2 separate regions of the Homo sapiens genome follow, and region 1 is linked to region 2. Evidence: fine-mapped expression QTL. A gene starts in region 2. The other region holds a variant in brackets. All regions are shown on one strand. Distances are from middle to middle. Region 1 has its middle 22 kb from the start of NEFH. Region 2 holds the start of THOC5 (THO complex subunit 5).

What was found. PIP is the estimated chance that this variant, and not a neighbour inherited with it, causes the effect.
Region 1: its variant is the best candidate, but not a certain one, in a credible set for the expression of THOC5 in lung (TOPMed, PIP 0.86).

The regions. Positions count from the first base shown.
Region 1 is chr22:29,499,875-29,505,244 of GRCh38, forward strand. No RefSeq gene overlaps it. Among named protein-coding and RNA genes, the nearest start is that of NEFH, 22 kb to the left of the region's middle. The variant C/T (reference allele first, on the strand shown) is at 2,182.
Region 2 is chr22:29,550,312-29,555,643 of GRCh38, forward strand. THOC5 (THO complex subunit 5) reads right to left here and starts at 3,446. Exons shown (of 20, transcript NM_003678.5): 1 at 3,360-3,446. NIPSNAP1 (nipsnap homolog 1) reads right to left here. Exons shown (of 10, transcript NM_003634.4): 10 at 4,497-5,332. RefSeq lists enhancers at 1,569-2,268, 3,666-4,363, 3,747-3,816 and a silencer at 3,157-3,346.

The DNA of each region.
Region 1 (5,370 bases), 50 kb before region 2:
GCAGTGAGCCGAGATGGTGCCACTGCACTCCAGCCTGAGCAACAGAGCAAGACTCCATCTTTAAAAAAAAAAGCCTCAATTAAAAAAAAATAGCTTCCATAAATTTAAAAGAATTGAAATCGTACAAAGTACGTTCTCTGATCACACTAGAGTAAAAGTTAATAACTAATCTGGGAAAGTCACAAATATGTGAAAAACAAACACTCCTAAATAACCAATGGGTCAAAGATGAAATCAGAGGGGAAATCAGAATATTTTTAGATGAACGAAAATGAAGATATAACATATGAAAACTTACGGTATGCAAGTAAAACAATGCTTAGAGGGAAATTTAAAGTTGTAAATGTCTACATTTAAAAAGAAGAATGAGGCCAGGCACAGTGGCTGACGCCTGTAATCCCAGCACTTTGGGAGGCCAAGGCTGGAGGATCACTTGAGCCCAGGAGTTCCTGACCAGCTTGGGGAACATAGTGAGATCCCGTCACTACAAAATAAAAATTAAAAAATTAACCAGGCACAGTGGCGTGTACCTGTAGTCCCAGCTACTTGGGAGGCCAAGGCAGGAGGGTTGCCAGAGCCCAGGAGTTCAAGACTGCAGTGAGCTACAATCACACCACTGCACTCCAGCCTGGGTGACAGAGCAAGACCCTGTCTCTAAATAAATAAATAAAGGAAAAGAAGAATGATCTCAAATCAATAACCTAAATTTCTACCTTAAGACATTGAAAAAAGAAGAGCAAAGTAAACCCAAAGAAGGATTAGAGTGGAAATTAATGAAATAGAGAATATAAAAATGACACAGAAAATCAATGAAATTAAAAGTTAGGTCTTGGCCGGACGCAGTGGCTCACACCTATAATCCCAGCACTTTGGGAGGCTGAGGAGGGCGGATCACCTGAGGTCAGGAGTTCGAGACCAGCCTGGCCAACATGGTGAAACTCCATCTCTACTAAAAATACAAAAATTAGCCAGGCATGGTGGCGAGCGCCTGTAATCCCAGCTACTTGGGAGGCTGAGGCAGGAGAATTGTTTGAACCCGGGAGGCGGAGGTTGCAGTGAGCCAAGATTGCACTCCAGCCTGGATGACAAGAGTGAAACTCTGTCTCAAAAAAAAAAAAAAAAAAAGGTCCTAAAAAGACCAACAAAATTCACAAACCTTTAGCTAGACTGACTAAGATAAAAGAAGAAAAGACTCAAATTACTAAAATCAAGAATAAAAGAGAAGGCATTAATGCCAACCTTACAGAAATAAAAGGAATTATAAGGCAATACTGTGAACAACCGTATGTCCACTAATTCAATAATTTAGATTAAATGCATAAATTCCTAGAAATATAAAAACTACTGAAACTGACTCAAGAAAAATGAGAAAATCTGGCCAAGTGGGGTGGCTCACACTTGTAATCCCAGAACTTCGGGAGGCCAAGGCAGGTGGATCACAAGGTCAGGAGATCAAGACCAGCCTGGCCAACACGGTGAAACCCCGTCTCTACTAAAAATACAAAAATTAGCCAGGCATGGTGGCACGTGCCTGTAATCCCAACTACTTGGGAGGCTGAGGCAGAAGAATCGCTTGAACCTAGGAGGCGGAGGTTGCAGTGAGCCAAGGTCACTCCATTACACTCTAGCCTGGACAACAAGAGTGAAACTGTCTCAAAAAAAAAAAAAAAAAATTCAGTCTGGGCGCAGTGGCTCATGCCTGTAATCCCAGCACTTTGGGAGGCCAAGGTGGGCGGATCACAAGGTCAAGACCATCCTGGCCAACATGGGGAAACCCCATCTCTACTAAAAATACAAAAATTAGCTGGGTGTGGTGGCACGCGCCTGTAATCCCAGCTACTCGGGGGGCTGAGGCAGGAGAATCGCTTGAACCCGGGAGACGGAGGTTGCAGTGAGCTGAGTTTGTGCCACTGCACAATCCAGCCTGGCGACAGTGGGAGACTTCATCTCAAAAAAAATAAATAAATAAAATAAATAAATAAATAGCAAGCAAAAATTAGCCAGGCATGGTGGGGCGAGTACTTCTAGTCCCAGTTACTCGGGAGGCTGAAGCAGGAGAATCGCTTGAACCTGGGAGGCAGAGGTTGCAGTGAGCCAAGACTGCACCACTGCACTCCAGCTTGGGCGACAGAGTGAGACTCTGTCTCAAAAAAAAAAAAAGAAAAGAAAAGAAAAGAAAAT[C/T]GGCTGGGCGCAGTGGCTCACGCCTGTAATCCCAGCACTTTGGGAGGCTGAGGCAGGTGGATCATGAGGTCAGGAGATCGAGACCATCCTGGCTAACACGGTGAAACTGTCTCTATTGAAAATACAAAAAATTAGCCGGGCATGGTAGCGGGCGTCTGTAGTCCCAGCTACTCGGGAGGCTGAGGCAGGAGAATGGAGTGAACCCGGGAGGCGGAGCGTGCAGTGAGCCGAGATAGCGCCACTGAGTCCAGCCTGGGTGAAAGAGCGAGAATCCGTCTCAAAAAAAAAAAAAGGAAAGAAAATCAATTAATGTAGTACACTACCTTGCCTTAAAGAATGAAGGGGAGCTGGGCACGATGGCTCACACCTGTATTTCCAGGTACATGGGAGGCTGAGGTGGGAGAATTGCTTGAGCCCTGGAGTTGAAGGCTGCAGTGAGCTTTGATTGCACCACTGCACTCCAGCCTGGGTGACAGAGCAAAACCCTGTATCTAAAACAAAAAACACAAAACCAATGGTGAAAAGCTGAAAGCTTTTCCCCTAAGATCAGGAACAAGACAGAGATGCCCACTTTCACAGTTGTATTCAACACAGTACTGGCAGTCCTAGCCAGAGAAATTAGGCAAGAAAAAGAAAAGGCATCCAAATTGGAAAGGAAGAAATAGAACGATCTCTATTTGCAGATGACATTATCACATATATAGAAAATCCCAAATAATCCACAGTAAACCCTTTTATTTATTTATTTATTTAGAGACCAAGGTCTCACTTTGTCCCCAAGACTGGAGTGCACCTGTGTGATCATAGCTCACTGTAGCTTCCAACTTCTGGGCTCATGTGATCCTCCTGCCTTTGCCTTCTGAGTAGCTGGGACTACAATTATGCGCCACCATGCCTGGCTAATTTTTAAATCTTATTTTTGTATAGACAGGGCTTCACTATATTGCCCAGACTGGCAGAAAAGTTTTTTTTAATTACTAGAGTTAATAAATGAATTCAGTAAAGCAGCAGGGGACAAAGTCAACACACAAAGAACAATTGTATGTCTACTCACCAACAATGAACAATCAGAAAAAGAAATTAAGAAAATAATTCTATTTATAATAGTATCAAAAATAATAAAATACCTAGGGATAAATTTAACCAAGGAGGCAAAAGACTTATACACTAAGTTTCATTTAAATAGGACAGTGAATGTAAAAGTGTGATTAGCACAGGGCCTGACCCAAAATAGATGCTTAATGCCTATTCTCATCAGAGACACTGCTGAACGCCATAGAAAGGACAGAGTCGGCTACACCGACAGGGACAAAGTTCCTTTGGAAGTCTGGCAGCCCTGCTCCTTCCTAGGGATAGAGTTTTGCTTAGCTTTGCGGAGTGATCAGCAAGAACACCCTTAAGTTTATGAAAAGAGTCTGTGGAGTTATTTGCAGAGAAAATAGTAAGGGATAAGCTAGGAAGAAAATAAGGGAGAAACTAGAAGATACCAATAAATCAGGAATGTGGACGGCAGCTTTAAAAAGGCAAGGAACAGGCCTGACATGGTGGGTTCACGCCTGTAATCCTAGCACTTTGGGAGGCCGAGGTGGGAAGATTGCTTGAGGCCAGGAGTTCAAGACTAGCCTGGGCAACATAGCAAGACCTTGTCTCTACAAAAGAAAAAAAAATGTTTTAAAAAAATTGTAAAGGGGAAAAAAAAAAAAGCAAGGAACACAGGCTGAGTCCCAGGTACAAGAGAGCGACAGATGGGCTGCGGTCTGCGATATGCCCCAGAGTATAATCTGCCAAAAGTCCGTGGACAATTCCAGCTGAGGAGGAAGCTTCTAGGTCCTCCCAAGCCAGTCCCTTTCCCCCTAATCTGCCCACCCTTGGCATGAATGGCTAAGTAGCTCACAGGGGAGGGATTGACCTGGGCTTCTCGCTTGTTTTAAAATCCTCCTTAAAGCCAAGGGATTCTTTTGTTCAGTCTGCTTCTCTGGAAAGGGAAAATCTCTTCTGGAGGGTGACAGGCTCTGATATCCCCTGTCTAAGAAGCAAAGCCTCTTCCCAGCCCTCACAAGCCCTCTTTGAAATCTTGTCCCGGCTTCTGGAGATGAGCTTTTGTGCTGAGTCAGTTTGGCTGCCTTCCAGCCAAGAACAGAGAAGTGCAGGCTGCAATGCAGGGGCCATTAAACTATTTTTAGGCTCTATTTCAATCTTATTCAGCACAGGCGGTGAGACACAAGGCCTGAAGGTGGACAGACCAGGGGGATGCCGCCTGGGACAAAGTCCCAGGCAAGTAGGTCAGGGAAAAGACAAGGAGATCTCGCTATGTGGAGAGAAATACTTAGCCAGGCGCGGTGGCTCACGCCTGTAATCCTAGCACTTTGGGAGGCCGAAGCGGGCAGATCACGAGGTCAGGAGATCGAGACCATCCTGGTTAACATGGTGAAACCCCATCTCTACTAAAAATATAAAAAATTAGCATGGTGGTGGGCGCCTGTAATCCCAGCTACTCAGAAGGCTGAGGCAGGAGAATTGCGTGAACCCGGGAGGCTGAGGTTGCAGTGAGCCGAGATCATGCCACTGCACTCCAGCCTGGGCAACAGAGCGAGACTCCGTCTCAAAAAAAAAAAAAAAAAAAAAAAAAAAGCACCCAGATGCTCATGCTGCTACCCAAGTGCAGAAGACAGAAGAAAGACAGCTGCCCAGAGAATTTGGCCCTGTAGAGTCATCAAGAAAAATGAAGAAAGGGAAGGGAAGGGAAGAAAGTACAGTGCCTTCCATAAAGAGACCAGGGCAGCCTATACCCAGGGATCCTTGTTAAAAATACACTTCCTGGCTGGGCGTGGTGGCACGCACCTGTAATCCCAGCACTTTGGGAGGCCAAGGTGGGTGGATCACCCGAGGTCAGGAGTTTGAGACCAGCCTGGCCAACATGGTGAAACCCTGTCTCTACTAAAAATACAAAATTAGCCGCACACTTATAATCCCAGCTCTTGGGAGGCTAAGGCAGGAGAATCACTTAAACCGATGAGGTAGAGGTTGCAGTGAGCTGAGATTGCGCCCTTGCACTCTAGCCTGGGCGACAGAGCAAGGCTCAAAAAATAAAAATAAAAAAATACACTTCCTTGGTGCATCTCAGGTCAATTGAGTCAGAATATTTGGAATGGGACTTGGGTGTCTGTGTTTCTAATCAGGTGCCAGGAT
Region 2 (5,332 bases):
CTTAACTACACTTTTATGCCTCCTAGTCCTGCCAGCCTCTCATCTAGTGATGCCATTGACTCCCAGGTTGATCCTAGAATTTAAAGTATAGAACCTACATTTCATGGGGCTCTACAGTCACAAAGCATCCTCCCTTGTTGCCTCACCACAGCCTCCTGAGGTGGGCAGCACTGTCCCCTTTACCCTAATCCCTCTTGCTCTGTCACCCAAGCTGGAGTGCAGTGGCACAATCATCACTCACTGAAGCTTCCACATCCCCGACTTGAGGGAGCCAATAGTTTGTCACGGTAAAAGTCAGAGAGCCCTGAACTGGAATCTCCATTCTACTCTTTCATGGCTATGAGTCCCCGGACGAGTCACTTCACTTTTCTCTGGGTCTGATTCCTCACAAATCAAATGAGAATAACAGTCCCTACCACAGGGGTTGTTGTGGGCTTTAACACAGGAGGCATTCCACTGGGGAAGGTGATGAAGATGACCTGGGACTGTGGCTTCAGATGATGCATAGGTGATCTTAAATAATGCTGAACACCTAAGGAGAAAGTTAATCCCTTTTCAATTCTTATTTTGAAACTTCTGATTGCTTCAAGGAGAACATCTCAGTTCCCTAGTTTGTCTTTAACATCTATGAATGCCAATGTTCCTTTGTAACAAAAGAACTCTATCCCACAGCCTTAAACAACAAAATCTAGCCAGAGTTTGTTAACAATGATCTAGTTGCATTATATTAACTATATTAATTTTTACCTTCTACATAAAACAAGTGAAAGCAGCTTTCCATTTCTGGTGGAGAGATTTCAAGTTTTCTCTCAAAGTAAATTTGAGTTTAAAAAGTGACTTGGCTGGGCGCAGTGGCTCAGGCCTGTAATCCCAGCACTTTGGGAGGCTGAGGCGGGTGGATCACCTGAGGTCAGGAGTTTGAGACCAGCCTGGCCAACATGGTGAAACCCCGTCAGTACCACAAATACAAAAATTAGCCGGGAGTGGAGGCGGGCGCCTGTAATCTCAGCTACTCAGGAGGCTGAGGTAGGAGAATCACTTGAACCCAGGGAGCAGAGGTTGCAATGAGCCGAGATCGCAGCCACTTCACTCCAGCCTGGGCAACAGAGCGAGATTCAGTCTCAACAACAACAAAAAAAGTGACTGGGCCCAACACCATGGCTCACACCTGTAATCCCAACACTTTGGGAAACCAAGGCAAGCAGAGGTGAGAGAATCGCTTGAGCCCAGGCGTTCAAGACCAGAGTGGGCAACAGAGCGAGACCCCATCTTTAGAAAACATTTTAAAATTAGCCTAGTATGGCGGTGCACACCTGTGGTCCCAAGCTACTCTGGAGGCTAGGGTGGGAGGATGGCTTGAGCCCAGAAGTTCCAGGCTGCAGTGAGCTATGATCGCGCCACTGCACTCAGTCTTGACAACAGAGATCCCGTTGCAAAAAAAAAATTTGGACTGGATTAAAAATTTTTAGTAAACCCCTCCCCCTCCCCCCTCCCCCTCTCTCCACGGTCTCCCTCTGATGCCGAGCCGAAGCTGGACTGTACTGCGGCCATCTCGGCTCACTGGAACCTCTCTGCCTGATTCTCCTGCCTCAGCCTGCCGAGTGCCTGCAATTGCAGGCGCGCGCCGCCACGCCTGACTGGTTTTCGTATTTTTTGGTGGAGACGGGGTTTCGCTGTGTTGGCCAGGCTGGTCTCCAGCTCCTGACCGCGAGTGATCGGCCAGCCTCGGCCTCCCGAGGTGCCAGGATTGCAGACGGAGTCTCGTTCACTCAGTGCTCAATGGTGCCCAGGCTGGAGTGCAGTGGCGTGATCTCGGCTCGCTACAACCTCCACCTCCCAGCCGCCTGCCTTGGCCTCCCAAAGTGCCAAGATTGCAGCCTCTGCCCGGCCGCCACCCCGTCTGGGAAGTGAGGAGCGTCTCTGCCCGGCTGCCCATCATCTGGGATGTGAGGAGCCCCTCTGCCCGGCTGCCCAGTCTGGGAAGTGAGGAGCACCTCTTCCCGGACCCCATCCCGTCTAGGAAGTGAGGAGTGTCTCTGCCCGGCCGCCCATCATCTCAGATGTGGGGAGCACCTCTGCCCCGCCGCCCCGTCTGGGATGTGAGGAGCACCTCTGCCCGGCTGCGACCCCGTCTGGGAGGTGAGGAGCGTCTCTGCCCGGCTGCCCCGTCTGAGAGGTGAGGAGCCCCTCCACCCAGCAGCCGCCCCGTCCGGGAGGTGGGGGGCAGCCCCCGCCCGGCCAGCCGCCCCGTCCGGGGGGGAGGTGGGGGCCAGCCCCAGCCCGGCCAGCCGCCCCGTCGGGTCGGGGGTAGGGGGGCGCCTCCGCCTGGCCGCCACCCCGTCCGGGAGGTGGGGGGCGCCTCTGCCCGGCCGCCCCTTCTGGGAGGTGAGGAGCCCCTCTGCCTGGCCGCCACCCCGTCTGGGAGGTGTACCCAACAGCTCATTGAGAACGGGCCATGATGACGATGGCGGTTTTGTCTAGTAGAGAGGGGGGAAATGTGGGGAAAAGATAGAGAAATCGGATTGTTGCTGTGTCTGTGTGGAGAGAGGTGGACAAGGGAGACTCCATTTTGTTCTGTACTGAGAGAAATTCTTCTGCCTTGGGATGCTGTTGGTCTATAGCCTTACCCCCAACCCCGTGCTCTCTGAAACATGTGCTGTGTCCACTCAGGGTTAAATGGATTAAGGGCGGGGCAAGATGTGCTTTGTTAAACAGAAGCTTGAAGGCAGCATGCTCCTTAAGAGTCATCACCACTCCCTAATCTCAAGTACCCAGGGACACAAACACTGCGGAAGGCTGCAGGGTCCTCTGCCTAGGAAAACCAGAGACCTTTGTTCACTTGTTTATCTGCTGACCTTCCCTCCACTATTGTCCTATGACCCTGCCAAATCCCCTCTGCGAGAAACACCCAAGAATTATCAATAAATACTAAAACAAACAAACAAACAAATTTTTAATAAACGGTAGTAGAGGTGGTAAGTTGATCTGGCAAAGCCTACAAAGACCGGACCTGAAAGGCTTAAGTGTGGGAAATCCTGACTTTGGCAACACAGTAGAGTGCCTGGCACACCGAAGAGCACGATATATGTGAGCTGTTACCATCACCACCACCCCCACCCCCATCAGGCTACATTACCACAATCAAGAGGCTCCAACGTGAAGCCTGAGGATGCTGCAGCGAACACTTTTCGGATGAGGTAACAGCGCAGCGCCGAGAGGCCGGGGACCGCGGGTAGTGAGGGAGGAGAAGCCGGGTCAGACCCCAGCCCAGGGGCGCCCTTTGGGCGATCAGCACCTCAGTCCCGGAGCGCCCAGCCCCGCCCCATCTCCCAGCCCCACTGCCCTTGTCCCCTCCTCACCTCACAGCTCCAAGAACCTGGCACCGGGAGTAAGCCACTGCCGGAGGCGGAGCAAAGCTTGCCCGCGCACCATAGAGAACCGGAAGTAAGGAAGGGGCGGCCGACCGGAAGCGAGGCGTAGAGGCCGGAAGCTCAGCGCGGAGGCCCCCGAGGGAGGTGGTGGCGTGGTGAGACTGTAAAAACAAAGACACATGCTTCTCGTTCACTGTGCCCAGGGCCTAAGAGAGTGTCCAGCAGCTAGTGGGCGCTCCACCGAGTAGTTGAATTAATGTTGTGTTATGTCCAAGATAACACGAAAGAACCTGGTAGCGCGGCGGGGAAGATTTCGGCGCTAGAGGATTTGCCTGCATAACCTTACTTCTTAATTATTATTTTTACCATAATATGCCACGCCAGTGAAGGCAACAAGTCAGGGAGGGCATTAACCTCATTTTACACTTGGCTTTTTGAGGAGTGCATCACCAGTTTCTCCATTTTAGGCCTGACTTGCCCAGGACAGAGTCACAACTCTAACGCAGTATTTGAAAGCTTCAGGTATTTCCTACCCCTGGCATGAACTGTACAAACAAGGCCCAGGATTTTTTCGTGTAAATCCTCATCTGGAGCTAGTAACACGTGTCCTGAATCCCTGGTTGTACGGGGCCAGTTCCTTCTCCTTCCCAGGAGCAAGGAGGAAAATACTGGCTCTTTTTTATTTTTATTTTTATTTGAGACAGAGTTTTGCTCTCTCACCCAGGCTGAAGTGCAGTGGCGCAATCCCCGCTCACTGCAAACTCCGACTCCAGGGTTTAAAGGATTCTCCTGCCTCAGCCTCCTAAGTAGCTGGGATTACAGGCATGCACCACCATGCCCAGCTAATTTTTGTATTTTTAGTAGAGACAGGGTTTCACCATGTTGCCCAGGCTGGTCTTGAACTCCTGACCTCACTCAAGTGATCTGCCCACCTCGGACTTCCAAAATGCTGGGATTACAGGCGTGAGCCACTGCACCCAACCAGTACTGACTGTTGAGAATAGCTCAAGAACACAGTACCCTCCAGGAGGGTAGATCTGCCATGTGGGACTAAGCCCACCAGCTCTACTGTGCCCTGCCTCAGGCACCTGCTAAAGTTCCTTGCAGATGAAGAAAAGACACTGATTTATAGTAAATATTTAATTGTTTCCATCAGCAATTCCAGCACAAGTTTTCCTGGATGGTAGGCAGAATCAAGCTACCCAAGGGTTCATGATGAGGTATGGGGGTCACTGAGGAGACCCCCAGAGTCACTGACCCCTCCCGCCACCTCCACACACCAGGTGGCCCTGCAGAATGAGGGTTGGGCTGATAGAATGTCAATTAGGGGAGACAGGATACAGGGTGAGGGAACAGGGTCTAGCTTGTATATTTGCCTGCAGGAAGGAGGGAGGGCAGGAGAGACTCTGCATAGAAGGACTGGAACTACACATTTAAGTTTTCAACCCCAATATGCAGGGGGAAACAGCCAAGCCACTCTCCATCTGTCTAGTATTAGGAACCTCTCTTCAAGTGGTCTTTTGTCATCTCTGTTCTTCTTCCCAATTCTGTATTCCAGATTCCAAATTCTACAATTGAAACCCAAGTTCTGAATTCTAAGTTCTACCTTCCGAGTTCCTGTTACGTGTCTGTCTCCTGCCCCTAAATCTTTCCTGGCTCCCATCCCTTTCCCCAGCCCCTCTGGGCAGAATGTCTGAACCTCCTCCTGACCGTGGTGACGAGGTTTGTTTGTATTTGTTTTTTTGTTTTGGCAGTTCCAGGCTTTTCTCCAGCAGGAGGGACTTGGCTCAGACTGTCCAGCAAGTGGGTGGCCCAGTGGAAACCAGGGAATTCCTGAGGGCCTGGCCTGGCCTCCTCTCTTCCCACCCCACCTCTAGCCACTGGACATACTACCTTTTGTGCAACTAAGCTAAACAGAGGATTTCCAAGGGTGATAACTGGGGACTGGTGGCCTTGAGATG